Linked DNA regions of Homo sapiens. The protein of the gene in region 2 interacts with the protein of the main gene of each other region in a biochemical or structural test. Each region holds a gene or a part of one and is shown on either strand. Other genes may lie near its edges.

The links. The genes of interacting proteins can lie anywhere in the genome.
Region 1: the proteins of PRKAR1A (region 2) and PJA2 form a complex in vitro, tested with the Homo sapiens proteins (one study listed by BioGRID).
Region 3: the proteins of PRKAR1A (region 2) and PATZ1 form a complex in vitro, tested with the Homo sapiens proteins (one study listed by BioGRID).

Annotation. Positions count from the first base shown.
Region 1 is NC_000005.10:109,398,992-109,404,375, reverse strand, and holds part of PJA2 (E3 ubiquitin-protein ligase Praja-2), read left to right. Parts: intron 1-5,384.
Region 2 is NC_000017.11:68,525,930-68,529,767, forward strand, and holds part of PRKAR1A (cAMP-dependent protein kinase type I-alpha regulatory subunit), read left to right. Parts: intron 1-1,910; coding exon 1,911-1,971; intron 1,972-2,940; coding exon 2,941-3,062; intron 3,063-3,838. UniProt on the Homo sapiens protein: Regulatory subunit of the cAMP-dependent protein kinases involved in cAMP signaling in cells.
Region 3 is NC_000022.11:31,328,364-31,333,747, reverse strand, and holds part of PATZ1 (POZ-, AT hook-, and zinc finger-containing protein 1 isoform long C), read left to right. Parts: intron 1-4,823; coding exon 4,824-4,961; intron 4,962-5,384. UniProt on the Homo sapiens protein: Transcriptional regulator that plays a role in many biological processes such as embryogenesis, senescence, T-cell development or neurogenesis. Interacts with the TP53 protein to control genes that are important in proliferation and in the DNA-damage response.

The DNA.
Region 1 (5,384 bases), on a different chromosome or scaffold from region 2:
CTAATTTTTGTATTTTTAGTAGAGACGGGGTTTTACCATGTTGGCCAGGCTGGTCTCAAACTCCTTACCTCAGGTAATCCACCTGCCTTGGCCTCCCAAAGTGCTGGAATTACAGGTGTGAGCCACCGCGCCCAGCCGAGAAATAAATTTCTGTTGTTTATAAGCCACTTCAGTCTATGGGAGCTTGTTATAGGAGTCCTAATGGACTAAGACAAGTGGCCTTTTATCATATTGAGGATGTTCCCATTCTATTCTTGGATTGCTGAGAGGTTTTTGTTGTTGTTGTTGTTGTTGTTGTTGTTTTTGAGATGGAGTCTTGCTCTGTTGCCCAGGCTGGAGGGCAGTGGCACCATCTCAGCTCACTACAGCCTCCGCCTCCTGGGTTCAAGTGATTCTTCTGCCTCAGCCCCCTGAGTAGCTGGGATTACAGGTACACGCCACCAAGCCTGGCTAACTTTTTTGTATTTTTGTAGAAATGGGGTTTTACCATGTTGGCCAGGCTGGTCTTGAACTCCTCACCTCGTGATCTGCCCGCCTTGGCCCCCCAAAGTGTTGGGATTACAGGCATGAGCCACTGCGCCTGGCAGAGAGTTTTTTTTTTTTTTTTTTTTAAATCATGAGTGGATGTTGATTTTAGTCAGGTATTATTACTGTATTTATTGAGATGATCATATGGTTTGTTTCTGTGTTAATGTGATGAATTACGTTAACTTATTTGCGAATGTTGAATCATCTTCCATTCTGTGGTTAAACCTCACTTGGTGATGGTGTATTATCTACTATCATTTTTATAAATTGGTGAAATTTTTTTTTTTTTTGCATCTATGTTCATGAAAGATACTTTTTCATATAATGCTGGTTTCATAGAGTTGCAAAGTGTTTCTTATATTTTTGAAAAAGAATTTATTAGGATTAGTATTATTTGTTTTACAATTTTTTTTAGAGTTTGCATGTGAACTCTTCTGGTCCTAGAGTTTTCTTTGCTGGAAGGCTTCAAAGGATAAGTCCAATTATCCTTTAATAAATACAGGATTATTAGGGTTATCTATTTCTTCTTGAAAGCTTTCGGTCTTTGTATGAATCACTTTCACTCACTAAGTGAGCGTTAGTAGTTTTTGTCTTTCAAGGCATTTGTCTTATTTCATTTATTCGTTGTCATAAAGTTGTTTCTTAATTATTTTAATGCCTATAACGTCTGTAGTGGTGTCTTTCCTTTCATTCTTGTTATTAGCAGTGTGACCTCTCATTTTTATTTGGTTCTAGGTTTATTTTATTAATCTTTTCAGAGTCAACTTTTTATTTGATTGCTTTTTTTTTAATTGTTAGTTTTATTGATTTCTGCTTCTTACTATTTCTTTCTATATGCTTTGGGTTTAAATTCCTCTATGTTAATTTATTAAGGTGTAAGCTTAGGTCATTGACTTGAGACCTTTTTTCTTTTCCTTCCAAGCACTGCCTGAGGTGCTTACACAAATTTGATGCACTGATTTTTTTTAAAGTTCTTATGTCACTTCCACTTTGACCCATGAAGGTTGCTGTTTAATTTCCAAATATTTGGTGATTTTGCATGTCTCTTTCTTTGTATAATTTATTTTAAATTCTTTGATATTTGTTTTATGACCAGAATATGGTTACTCTCAGTAAATGTCCCATGTACACTTCAAAATAATGTGTATTCTGCTGTTTAGCAGTGGAGTATTCTATATCAAGTTGATTGATGATGCTTGTTAGGCCTTCTCTTTCCTTACTGAGTTTTTGTTTGTTTCATTGATCATTGAGAGAAGAGTTGAAGTCTCCAAGTATAATGGTAAGTTTGTTTATTTCTCCTTTTCAGTTTTTGCATCATGTGTATTGAACCTCCTGTTAGGTGCATGTAAATTTAGGATTGTTAAAACTTTTTGGTGAATGAACCCCTTAATCATTATATAATGCCCTCTTTATCTCTGATAGTATTCCTCATTCCAAAGTCTACTTTATCTAATATTAATACAGCCTCTCCAGCCTCCTTTTAGTGTTTGTATATTATTTTCCATCCATTTAATCTGTCTTTTATTTAAAATGGGTTTGTTCTAGACAGCCTTTTTTAATTCATCTTGAAAAATCTGTTTTTACATTGAAGTGTTTAGACTATTTACATTTAATGTAATTTTGATGTAGTTGGATTTAAATATACAATCTTAATTGTTTTCTACTTATGTGCTCTCTGATGCCTATTTTTGAGTGCATTTTATCTTCACCATTGGCTCACTACTTACACTCAACTTTTCCTCTCTTTTAAAAAGTTAATTGGCTTCTCTGTGATTTATATTTTACATCTTTAATAATAGACCATATGGAAGCAATACTATACCACATTTTATATAGTGTCAGAGCTTTACAACAGTATATTTACAATGTATATTTACAATTTCTCCTTATCTTTTGTGCTATTACTGTTTTACCTTTTACAAATGCCATAAATGCATAATACCTTGTAATATTTGTTTTATTCCTGTGCTGTCTAGTATGGTAGTCATTAGCCAGTGTAGCTATTTAAATTTGAATTTAAAGTAGTTAGTACAAGTTAAATTAAAATTGATTTTCTGTGTTATAGTGGCCTCTTTTCCAGTGCTTATTCTTTCTGCATGAAGAACTTCCTTTCACATTTCTTGGACTTCAATTCTACTGGTAACAAAGTTCCAAAGATTGTTTCACAAATACTTTGTTTCACTTTTTCTTTTGAAAGATTTTGCTGGATATAAATTTATTGTTCACAGTGTTTTTCTAATATTAAGGATGCTATTTATTATCTTTTGACTTGCACAGTTTCAAATAAGAATTTGGCTGTGATTCTTATTTAGTTCCTTTTTTCTGCTGTCAGTATCAAATATGTTTTATCAGTGGTTTTTAAATTTTATTTTATTTGTTGTTTTTTTTTGAGACAAGGTCTCGCTCTGTTGCCCAAGTGGAGTGCAGTGGTACAAGCTTGTCTCACTATAGCCTTGAGCTTCTAGACTCAAGCAATTCTCCCACCTTAGCCTCCAAAAATCCTGCATTTGCAGGCCTGAGCCACTGTGCCCAGGCTGTCATTGGTGGTGGTAGCGGTTGTTTTTGAGACAGAGTCTCACTCTGTCGCCCAGGTTGGAGTGCAATGGCGCCATCTCAGCTCACTGCAACCTCTACCTCCCGGGTTCAAGTGATTCTCATGCCTCAGTCTCCCAAGTATCTGCGATCACAGGCTCCCGCCACTACGTCTGGCTAATTTTTGTATTTAACAGGGTTTCACCATGTTGGCCATGCTAGTCTCAAACTCCTGGCCTCAAGTGGTCTGCCCTCCTTGGCCTCCCAAAGTGCTGGGATTACAGGCATGTGTCATTTGGTTTTTTTGTTGTTGTTGTTTTGTTTTTTGTTTTTGAGACAGAGTCTTGCTTTGTCTCCCAGGCTGGAGTGCAGTGGCGCCATCTCGGCTCACTGCAAGCTCTGCCTCCCAGGTTCATGCCAGTCTCCTGCCTCAGCCTCCTGAGTAACTGGGGCTACAGGCACCCGCAACCATGCCTGGCTAATTTTTTTTGTATTTTTTTAGTAGAGACGGGGTTTCACCATGTTAGCCAGGATGGTCTCAATCTCCTGACCTCGTGATCCACCTGCCTCTGCCTCCCAAAGTGCTGGAATTACAGGTGTGAGCCACCATGCCCGGCCATATCATTCGTTTTTTATAGCAGGTTAAAGATGTTAACATCTTGGGATATGTGTACATTTTTGTGTGTTTTGTATTTATACTGCTTTTGTAGGGGGGAATCACTGAGCTTCTTGGGATTTATGATCTTTTAAATAATGTATGAAAAATTCACAGCATCTTTCTCTTCTAATGTTTCCACTGCCCGCGACACCCCCCCGCCCTTCCCCCCCCTCCCCCTGCTGGTTTGCTCTCTTTTTGTGGGGTTCCAGTTAAACTCATGGCAGCTCATTTAATGCAGTCCACAATTCTTGGAGGCTCTGTTTTGGTTTTTGTTGCTGTTGTTTTTTAACATGTTTCTTTTCAGTTAAATCACTTTTTATCTAGGCTTGGATCATTTCTTTTGACTTATCTTTTTCTTTTTTTTTTTTTGAGACAGTCTCAGTCCATCACCCAGACTGGAGTGCAGTGGTGTGATCTTGGCTCACTGCAACCTCTGCCTCCCGACTTCAAGCGATTCTCCGTACCTCAGCCTCCTGAGTAGCTGGAATTATGGGCGTGCACCACCACGTCTCACTAATTTTTTGTATTTTTAGTAGAGACGGGTATCACTATGTTGGTCAGGCTGATCTTGAACTCCTGACCTAAAGTGATCCACCCATCTTGGCCTCCCAAATTGCTGGGATTACAGGTGTGAGCCACTGAGCCTGGCCTGATTTATCTTGAGCTCACTAAAAGCTTCCTCCCCTAGTTTTTTAATGAGCCCATAGAATGCATTCTTCATTTCTGTTAACTGTTTTTTATTTTTTGCATTTCCATTTTCATCTCTCCTGAAATTTCTCATGAGTTGATGCATGTTCCTACCTTTGTGCTAGAGCCTTTAAAAGGGTAATCATAGTTATTTTAATTTTCTTCTCTGATAATTCTGTTAATTGCTTTATCTGGTTCTGTTTGTTGTTGTCTCTTGATAAAGAGGGTTTTTTCCTCCTCAGCTTTTTTGTCTTGTAATTTTTGACTGAATGGCAGACTTTATATGCAGAACAGTAGAGATTGTGGCAAATAATTCTTATGTCTGGATGTGAGTCTGCTTCTGCATCTGCTAGGCTTTTAGTGTGGTGTGGGGTTGATTCAATCTAATTCGTGATTGAGATGGGTTTGGATTTCGTTTCTGTGGTTGCATTGTGCTTAGTGTTACCTTGTGCTTAGTGTGACAGCTGAAGTGCCTGATTTTTCTAAGTGTTCCTACTTCACTGTCAACTTTCAGCTTTCTCTGTGTGCCCATACCTCAGTGGAGAAGTTTCTCCACACACTGTCATTATCCCCAGCAGTAGACTGTTGTTTCTTGATGCTGACTAGCCTGGAGATGGAGGCAGAGTTTTCTCTGTCTTCCTTATCTGTACTCAGTGTTACACAAGCCCTTTGTCTCTTGTTTTTGGGTATGGGCCAATGATGCTGTACCTTCTCTCCATGGTAGCCAAACTCTGCCTCATATCTTTTTTTTTTTTTTTTTGAGACAGAGTTGCACTCTGTCACCCAGGCTGGAGTGCATTAGCGTGATCTCGGCTCACTGCAACCTCTGCCACGCAGGTTAAAGCGATTCTTCTGCCTCAGCCTCCCAAGCAGCTGGGATTACAGCCATGTGCCACCAAACCCGGCTAATTTTGTGTTTTTAGTAGAGATGGGGTTTCACCATGTTGGCCAGGCTGGTCTCGAACTCCTGACCTCAGGT
Region 2 (3,838 bases):
TTGAGAGTGTGATTTAGAATTCTCATCTACGTAACTAATGTTTGAATATTACCAAATTAAAAAGAGAATATTTCTTTTAATGAGCAAATATTTCTTTCTTTTAATAAGCGAATATTTTTCTTTTAATGAGCAAATACTTTGCATTAAGCCCAGCTTAGCATTATTCATTATGCCATTTTAGGCAGTGATATTTTAGAACAAAACCTTGGGAAACAAGATCTGGTATATATGTGCTGGTCATCTCATGTTTGGAAATCTATCCATTTGCTGGTAGGCACATCTTAATTTACCTAGTTATACCCATTACAGCATGATAGGTGCTGCTTTTAAGTGCTTAAAGTTATTTGGGGCCATTCAGAAATAATCAGCTTCCCTAACCTGTGAAAGTGGGTTATCAGTAATGTATATGTATGTCATGTCCCCTCTCGTTAAAGGAATAAACAAAATACTAAAACCATTGGAACTTTCTGGTGATAGTCAGATTTTTTGAGAACGTTGTGATAAATTTATAGGATAGCTTTGGATGTTTAAGTCTCAGCCAATGCATTGGTCATTTTTAATGGTTTTCTTAAATTTGTGCAGTGTCCATCTGACCATTTGAAAATGTACAGCCTGATGTACTTTGAAATTTTTCTGCATTTGGGATATATAGATAGATTAGATTAGATAGATAGTCTTGTCCTTCGCAGCAACATAGATAGAGCTGGAGGCCATTTTTCTAAGCAAAATAACACAGGAACAGAAAACCAAACCACATGTTCTCACTTACAGTTGGGAGCTAAGCAATGAGAACACGTGGATACTAGAAGGGGAACAACAAACACTGGGGCCTACTTGAGGGTGGAGGGTGGGAAGAGGGAGAGGATCAGGAAAAATACCTGTGGTGTACTTTACTTATTACCTGGGCAACAAAATTACCTGAACACCAAACCCCTGTGACACCCAGTTTACCTATATAACCTGCACATGTACCCCTGAACCTTAAACCCACACACACAAAAAAACGCTTATGGCAAAGATAAGTCTAAATTTTAGAAAGATTGGTTTTGAAGTGATGTGACAGTCTACTGGAGAAGAAACTGACCATACAGTTAGTTCTGCATTTCCTCTACAGGAATACTATTAGTAAAAGGAAACATAGAATGTTTACAGCTTTATCTCATTGTCAAAGAAGGAAGAGGTAGGACCTGGAACTATTGGTTTGAAATAAAATATTTTACTTTCTCATAGTGGGCCTGAAAGGAAATTAGGGCCTCACAATGCTTTGGCTTTGTGGACAGGAATTAGGAACTGTAGATATGGGGTGAAATATCTATATAGCTGGGTAGGGGAGGATATGGTCCTTTTTTTATAGAATAAAGACATGTCAATTGTATAGGTGAGAAGCCAGAACTAATGGAGGAATCTGCATTTAAATACCAGCGTTGAACAGGAAGAACACTAGGATTATTGGGTTGTAAATGACCTAGATTACTTTTGTGAGAAAATATTTTCAGAGATAAATTGGGTTGGCAGTGGCACAAAATCAGTTTGAGAGTAAACATGGAAATTGGACATTGGTTTAAAGTGTGTGGAAAAATATCTTGAGTGATAGGCTCAGGTATAAACCGGTATTTCGACTGTATTTGGAAGTTGGGAAATGCTTTGTGAAATATGTCAACATACTGGTTGCAAATGCTAGGAATTGGGCATAATATTGGCGGAAAATAAAAATCACAAGAATGTCATATCATTCATTACCTGTAAAATAAAAATGAATTAGTTAAAATTAAACTTTCCTCATTAAAAGCAACAAGCTTTGACTTTCTGGTTTTAAAATTTATTTGAAACTTAATATTTATTATTCCATAGCATTATGTGGTGATAATTACACGTCTTGGGGATATCACTTTTGTTATTTTTATTTTTAGGGAAGCACACTGAGAAAGCGGAAGATGTATGAGGAATTCCTTAGTAAAGTCTCTATTTTAGGTGAGTTGTAAAGTGTGTTAACTTTGCTAGTATGTGAGATACCCCTGAATTAGAATTGGATGGACTTGGGAAAAGCCTTCTGAAAGTATAATTGCTACTCATTCCCCCTGAAAAGACAGAAGGGCTGAAAGTCCTTCTGACTGTGGACATTCACAGTTATTTCCTCTGTGACTTCCCGTCTCTCTTGTTCCATCATTGAGTTGATTGGTTCAGAAAAGTGAGTACTTCCAACAATACATTTCCTCTGTGGAAAGATTAGGTATCATTTGCTGGCATCCTCTGAAAACATGCCAGAAGTTTGTTGAAATTTAGAGTAAAGCAGATTAATTGAAGATATTCTTTTGTGCATTTTGTTATGTGGACTTGGAGATGTTAGAACTTGTTCTTCATGAAAGGGGAATGGGGATTTTTATAAGGTAACAGGCTTCTGCCATTGTTTATTACAGTGAATTTTTCACCTCTTCTTTGTCTTTTCTTTGAATTGGTTACATATGCTTTGTGTTTTGGATAGTAGTTTGGCCTTTGGGAATAAAAGTTATTTTCTAGTTCTTTTTCATAAAGTAAACCAAGAATTTAAATAGATTAAATTATTTCTATGAAACTTTGGAACGATATGGATGGGGAAACTATGACTTTTGAGTATTGTAGTTGTAGGTTTGATTTGCATTGATGGCAATCTTCAGGAATACTTAAGGATTACATTTTCTTATTCCCTTGCCATTTGGTACAGTTGGTATAAATTAACCTAGCCACTGGGCTACCGAAGTAAGGATCTAAGGGCTATCTGCAGGCAGTATGAGAATCCTGCTCAGACTAGAGGTAATTGAAGACAGGTACCACTTTTAATCTGAGACACTACTAGAATGTTGAATGGGCATGGCTATTTGGTTGAATCTCTTTATACTTTCTTTTTACCTTTATAACAGCACCAAATAATACAGAGCAGTTATTTTGATTCTTGTCTTTCAGAGTCTCTGGACAAGTGGGAACGTCTTACGGTAGCTGATGCATTGGAACCAGTGCAGTTTGAAGATGGGCAGAAGATTGTGGTGCAGGGAGAACCAGGGGATGAGTTCTTCATTATTTTAGAGGTAAAGAACTCAGAATTTAATACTTGAATTTTAGAGGTAAAGAACTCAGAATTTAATACTTTAAAAAGTTGTACGCTCTAAGAGGGAAAGAGTGGGCTAATTCTGAACTATAGCTTTAGTTTTTAAGAATACCTGACCATTTTATTTTAAAATTATCTTTTACTTTGAAATGCTGTTGTTTGGTTTTCTGCCAGGTCACTATATTTTTAAATGAGTTTGAGTCAGAATTCTTGAAGGGCCCTAGACATGAAAAGCCAAATTCTAAAAACCATTTAACATAACAAACTGTGATGATTCTGCACTATTCTTGTTAAAATGCAAGTGTTTGGGCTATTTGGCAAATAAGGATTAAAGGTAATTATTTAAATTTGAAAAATTACTGTGTTTGTATATCTCCACATTCCATGGAAATGTATAGCAGATACTCTTGCTAAGCGGATCCAAGTGGCAGATTTCTATGAATGTGGCTCCATAGTTGCTAATTGATTTTATTTAAATCAGGGGTCAGGAGACTGTAAAGGGCCAGGTGGTAAGTAAGTTAAGCTTTGTGGACCATAGGGTTTCATTCGCAAAGTCTCAACTCTTGTCATAGTGCAAAAGCAGCCACAAATAATATGTAAATGAATGTATGTGGTATTTCAGTAAAGTTTGATTTGCGAAAGAGACAGTGAGCTTGGATTTAGCCCTTCATCTACAGTTTGCTAACCCAAGTGTGCACCCTTTAAGCACCTTAGCTTGATACGAAGAACCTCGCTAGCAGGAGATGCTGGTAAAAT
Region 3 (5,384 bases), on a different chromosome or scaffold from region 2:
ATCCAGAAGAGTAAACCAGAGTCTACTTTTTCTCAGAAAAGCCAAGACTGGGTCTGGATCACAGGCCAAACATCTCTGGGTTCCAGAGCCAGAGCGGGAAGTCCCTTTCCTGCAAGAAGACTAAAGAAGGTGCTGGTCCAACCCATGCTGGGTACTCAGAAAGAAGAGAAAACAATTGCAGTTTTTATCAGAAGAGAAGGAGCAGGATTCTACTCCTGGACTCATTCCTTGGGCAGAAATAGGAAGAGACAAAAAAAAAAAAAAAAAAAAAGGAAGAGGATAAAGTTCTTTCTGAGCACCAAAAACATTGAGACATTGGAATCAAAATGCAGAGAGCTCTGTGTCCTCCTTTGCCCTGCTGCCACCAAGCCTGTACCTACAGGAGGGGTTGCACGAATAAACGAATGTTCTTATCTCTGCATGTGTTCAAACAAAGGCTGAATGTCAGAACAGTTAAGATTGAATCAGGTGAACTTCCAGGTGCCCTCAGATCCTTCAATCCCAACAATTCTTAAATAGTTGACTTAAGTATCTACCTATAGATCTGTCTTTTTCAATTTTTGCCACAAAAATGACTCCTGGCTGTGAAGAATGGCAAAGAGGAAAGGCAGCCTGACTCCTGCAGCCTCACACGTGAGTCAGATGCAAGTTGAAGAGACAGATGACTCTGGCTTTGTCATACAGACATATCAGGATGTGTATGATACTATTTGTACAGGAAGATCATTTGCAGTGGAGGGAGTATTATGGCTAGAAAAGCTTGTTCCCACATTTTTGAGTTGAGGAAATCAGTTGAGTTGAACAGTGGAAAAGGGAGAAGGCCCTGGCTGATCACCATGATTTTCTTCCTTTAAAGTTTCTGTAGCAGGATCTTTGTATATATGCCTATGTGCTGGTATGGTGAAGAGGAACAGATTATCAGGAATCCGCCTTTGACAGAGACATTTGAATGCAAACATCATTGCTTGAAAGGTAGAGGAAGCCTTCTCCCCAGTCAGAGGTAAGCACACAAGTGGATGGATGCAGGGAACCTGCTGTTCCCCTGGACTCACATCAAGCTATGTAGGCCCACTCCAACACAGTGCAGTTGGGAATGGCCCCTTCAGGGTTTGGACAAGGAGAAAGCAGTCCCCAACCCCTGCATTGATGTGGAACCTGCCAAAGGATGATTTGCTTCTGGAGTGCCAAGTGCAGGCACACCAGGCAAGAAAATGCAACTGAGGAGCAGTGGCCTTTTGCTAATAAGACCATCGTCTCTGGAGTGAAAGGGCCGGTGGCTTGTTGGTTGTAGTGGCAGTCATATGTGTGCTCAGCATCTCCATTGCGTGGATGGCTGGATCAAGCTGCCTCTTTGGATCTTGGTTAATCAGTGGTGAATGGGTGGGTAAGTTTAGAATTCCGGCTAAATATGTCTGGCTTCAAAGACGTATTCTGCTCAGAAGCTCAGCTTCTGTTTCATCCTAACACTTGGCTGCTGAGTTGCTCTGTGTTTAAATTCTAGGCTTTAAGTGGCAGCTGTGGATCCACTCCTACCACCCCGCCATGTGGTTTTGCTATAGATAGTACAGTCTGCAGCTGGGGTAAAGTCAAGAGGACTCAGCCACGTGTTTCTAAGACTGTTTTTCAGGAAAACTCAGCAAGACAGTTTCGCTGTTGTTGCCCAGACTGGAGTGCAATGGCGCGATCTCAGCTCATCACAACCTCCACCTCCTTGGTTCAAGCGATTCTCCTTCCTCAGCCTCCCTAGTTAGCTGGGATTACAGGCATGCACCACCACGCCCGGCTAATTTTGTATTTTTAGTAGAGACAGGGTTTCTCCATGTTGGTCAGGCTGGTCCGGAACTCCCAACCTCAGGTGATCTGCCTGCCTCGGCCTCCCAAAGTGCATGAGCCACTGCGCCCAGCCAAACTCAGCAAGTTTTTATTGAGCATCTGCTGTGTTCTCTTGGTATAGCTCTCCCAGTAAGGAGTAAACATAATAATTCCTGGTGCTCTCCCGCTCCTTTCTGTCCCCTTTTGATTGCAGTGGACCTGCTCTGGTTCATCACAGGGAGAGAGCTTCATGCTATTTTAGAGACCCCACAAGGGATTAAAAAACTAAGGAAAGGCCGGGCACGGTGGCTCACGCCTGTAATCCCAGCACTTTGGGAGGCCGAGGCGGGTGGATCGCGAAGTCAGGAGATCCGAGACCATCCTGGCTAACATGGTGAAACCCCGTCTCTACTAAAAATACAAAAAAAATTAGCCAGGTATGGTGGCGGGCGCCTGTAGTCCCAGCTACCAGGGAGGCTGAGGCAGGAGAATGGCATGAACCCTGGAGGCGGAGCTTGCAGTGAGCCGAGATGGTGCCACTGCACTCCAGCCTGAGCGAGAGTGAGACTCTGTCTCAAAAAAAAAAAAAAAGGAAAAAATTACCTTCTAAAGTGGTATCATCATATTATCAGAAAGTTCTAATATCTTGTACTGATTGGTGGGAGCCAATGTCTCCTGGTTCTGCTTTGTTTTAGGGGACTCTACAGTACCACCCCAAGGGGCAGGGCTAACAGCCTCTTTCCCATTAGCCTTGTCTCCTCACTCCTGACTACAGCCTCCCTCTTAGGGATGTCTACATGGGACCCTCTTACACCAATCTATACCCATGATCAGCCTCAGGCAGACCACTGCGGTCATAGCACAGGACAACTTGCTCTACCAGGCAGGGCAGGACACCAGCACCTGGTCTAGACAGATCTTTGAAGTAGCTGTATTGGGAAAGGAAGGAAAATTGGCCCAATCCCACATTTCCCTTCAGAACCACTAACTGCTGCTGTCAGAGGAGAACTTGTTAAATAAAGTTCCCACAGGCCAGCCCTGTTTTTCCAGCAGCTTCCATTCTAACATACCATTATGGTCGAAAAATACATGAGTGTAAATGGTAATAATGAAACCTATTGTAAAAGTCCACTGGATATTTCTAGGGCTCAGGGCTAAGACACAGGAACCAATTAACCCATTTATGCTGGAGGTTACAAACTTTTTTGTGAAAAATCAGACTTTAATGATGATCTTGAGCAGTAGGATACAAATAATTCCTAAAAGGTTAGCGTCCCAATAATGGAACATGAGGCATAAGTGGGTTAAAGCATCTGCCCAGTAGCTAAGGGCCAAGTTCTGGTGGCACATGATCCTGGGGTTGGAGTCCAGGCTCTGCCACTCAGTAGCTGTACGTGTGACCAGGTTACTTAACCTCACCAAGCCTCTTTTTTTTTTGAGACGGAGTCTCGCTCTGTTGCCCAGGCTGGAGCGCAGTGGCATGATCTCAGCTTACAGGTGCCTGCTACCACGCCCAGCTAATTTTTTATATTTTTAGTAGAGACGGGGTTTCACTGTGTTAGCCAGGATGGTCTCGATCTCCTGACCTCGTGATCTGCCCACCTCAGCCTCCCTAACCTCACAAAGCCTCTTATTTCTTTATCTGTAAAATGGGTATAATAGTAATCTGTAGCACAAAGGGTGTTGGGCAAATTCTATAGAATAGTGCATGCGGTGTGCTGGGCCCTGGTGTGCCATCAGCACTTCCTAAAGGTGAACCTTTATTACAGTTCCAGCAGCATTCAAAATACCATGCCAATTCAGACTTTTTTAAAACAAATCTCATGCAGACATTACACAGTACTCTTCAGCCTCTGACCCTTTACCCTTTAGCAGTGGATCTCACTGTTATCCTGTGACTGTGTAATTTTGAAAGTGAATGGAAACACCTGATGATGAGTCAACCAGATCTGAAGTGGATTAAAGGGACACTGTCAGGGTGCTGGCACCCTAAGTGGGCCTTATACTAAAAAGCTTCAGTTCCTGCTAAAAGCACCTTCTGATCCTTGACTACAGTGGGGTTTGATGGCATACCTCCTTCCTGTGAAACCCAAGTCAAAATCCTTTTATCGGCCTGCCTGATTCTGTATCCTTGGACGCATGGCTGCTGTGGAAGTTGGCCCAAGATGTGTTCTTCCCAGCCTGAGATATCTCGTGGATCAGACTGACCGAAGCATCTGGGAGGTGGGCTGGAACAGTCCCAAGAAGGCCGGATTGTCCTCCCCCAAAATAAAGACAGAGATCATCCGTGTTTCTTCTCCTGTACGCGAACCTGGTGGATGCTCCAAAATCGAACCAAAACACTACCATGAATAAGAGATGACTGCACTCCTCTGACACAACTTCCTATTTTTGTCTTTGTTCTTCAAAAGGTCTAAACAGTTACTAAATCCTGTTATGCTGAAGGTGGGGAAGTTAGAAAAATAGAACATCTCCTGACAGGTAGAAGACGGGATCCTTGGAGGCGTTCCTTTGGGATTTCATTTTACCTCCATCTCGTTTGTTGTCCAGTTTCCTTTTACGAGGATTAAGCAGGCATCCTGCTGGCTAGAATCCTGTGGCTTCCCTGGAGCCTCAAATTCTTGTCTAACCACATTTCTAGTCATGGTTCCTGCAGGAGACATCCACTCAAACCACCTGTTACTGAGGCACCAAGCAACCCTAGAGGCAGTTGGCCTCTGGCCCTAGCAGGAGCAGGATCTCAGGCCATCCCACCAGGCAGCCAGCCTCAGCCCCTCACCGCAGCCTTGCAGAGTGGGCTCTGCAGAGAAGCCGATTTGTGGACAGTGCCACCCTCCATCCTGAGTCACATGGCTCATGTGGTTGCAGCCATTTTTGAGCCAGGAGGGGGCCCCTTCTAGGTGCAGCTGACCTGGGAATGCTAGCCAGAGCGGCCAGAGGAGAGGAGTTGGGGGAAGGAGAGAGGTATCTCTTGCTGGCCGCGGGATCTCATCTCCTTTTGTCTTGTTTAGGTTTCTCCTCTGCCTCCTACTTAAAGGTCCATGTTAAAACCCACCACGGTGTTCCCCTTCCCCAGGTCTCCAGGCACCAGGAGCCCATCCTGAATGGGGGAGCAGCGTTCCACTGCGCCAGGACCTATGGCAACAAAGGCAAGCGACCCCTTGCTCTGCACTTTGCTTCTCTGCGCAGACTGTGTTGTGGGGGCGCTGGGCTGGGCGTGGGGAGGCGGGAAGGCTGCCGGCTTTCTGGCTGCCTTGAGGAGACTCAGAGATCTGAGTGGCAGTGGCCTCCAGGACAAAAGTCACAGTGGGTATCTCACTCCAGGGCAGTGAGTGAGGCTTTAGGGCACTGCCGAGATCCAGCCTCCGCCTCCTCTTCCCCAGCCCTCCTCCTTTCCTCCTGGCCAGCCCCCACTGTCTGGAGCCCTGCAGGGATGCCCCGGGCCCTGGGCAGAAGAAGAGCCCTGCATGATGAGTCACTATGGGCCTGTCACTGCCTGCTGCCCTTTAGGATGGTGTGGAGCTGCGGCTGAATGCTTTCTCCTCTTTTGACCCAGTGGGCCGGTGGGAGCC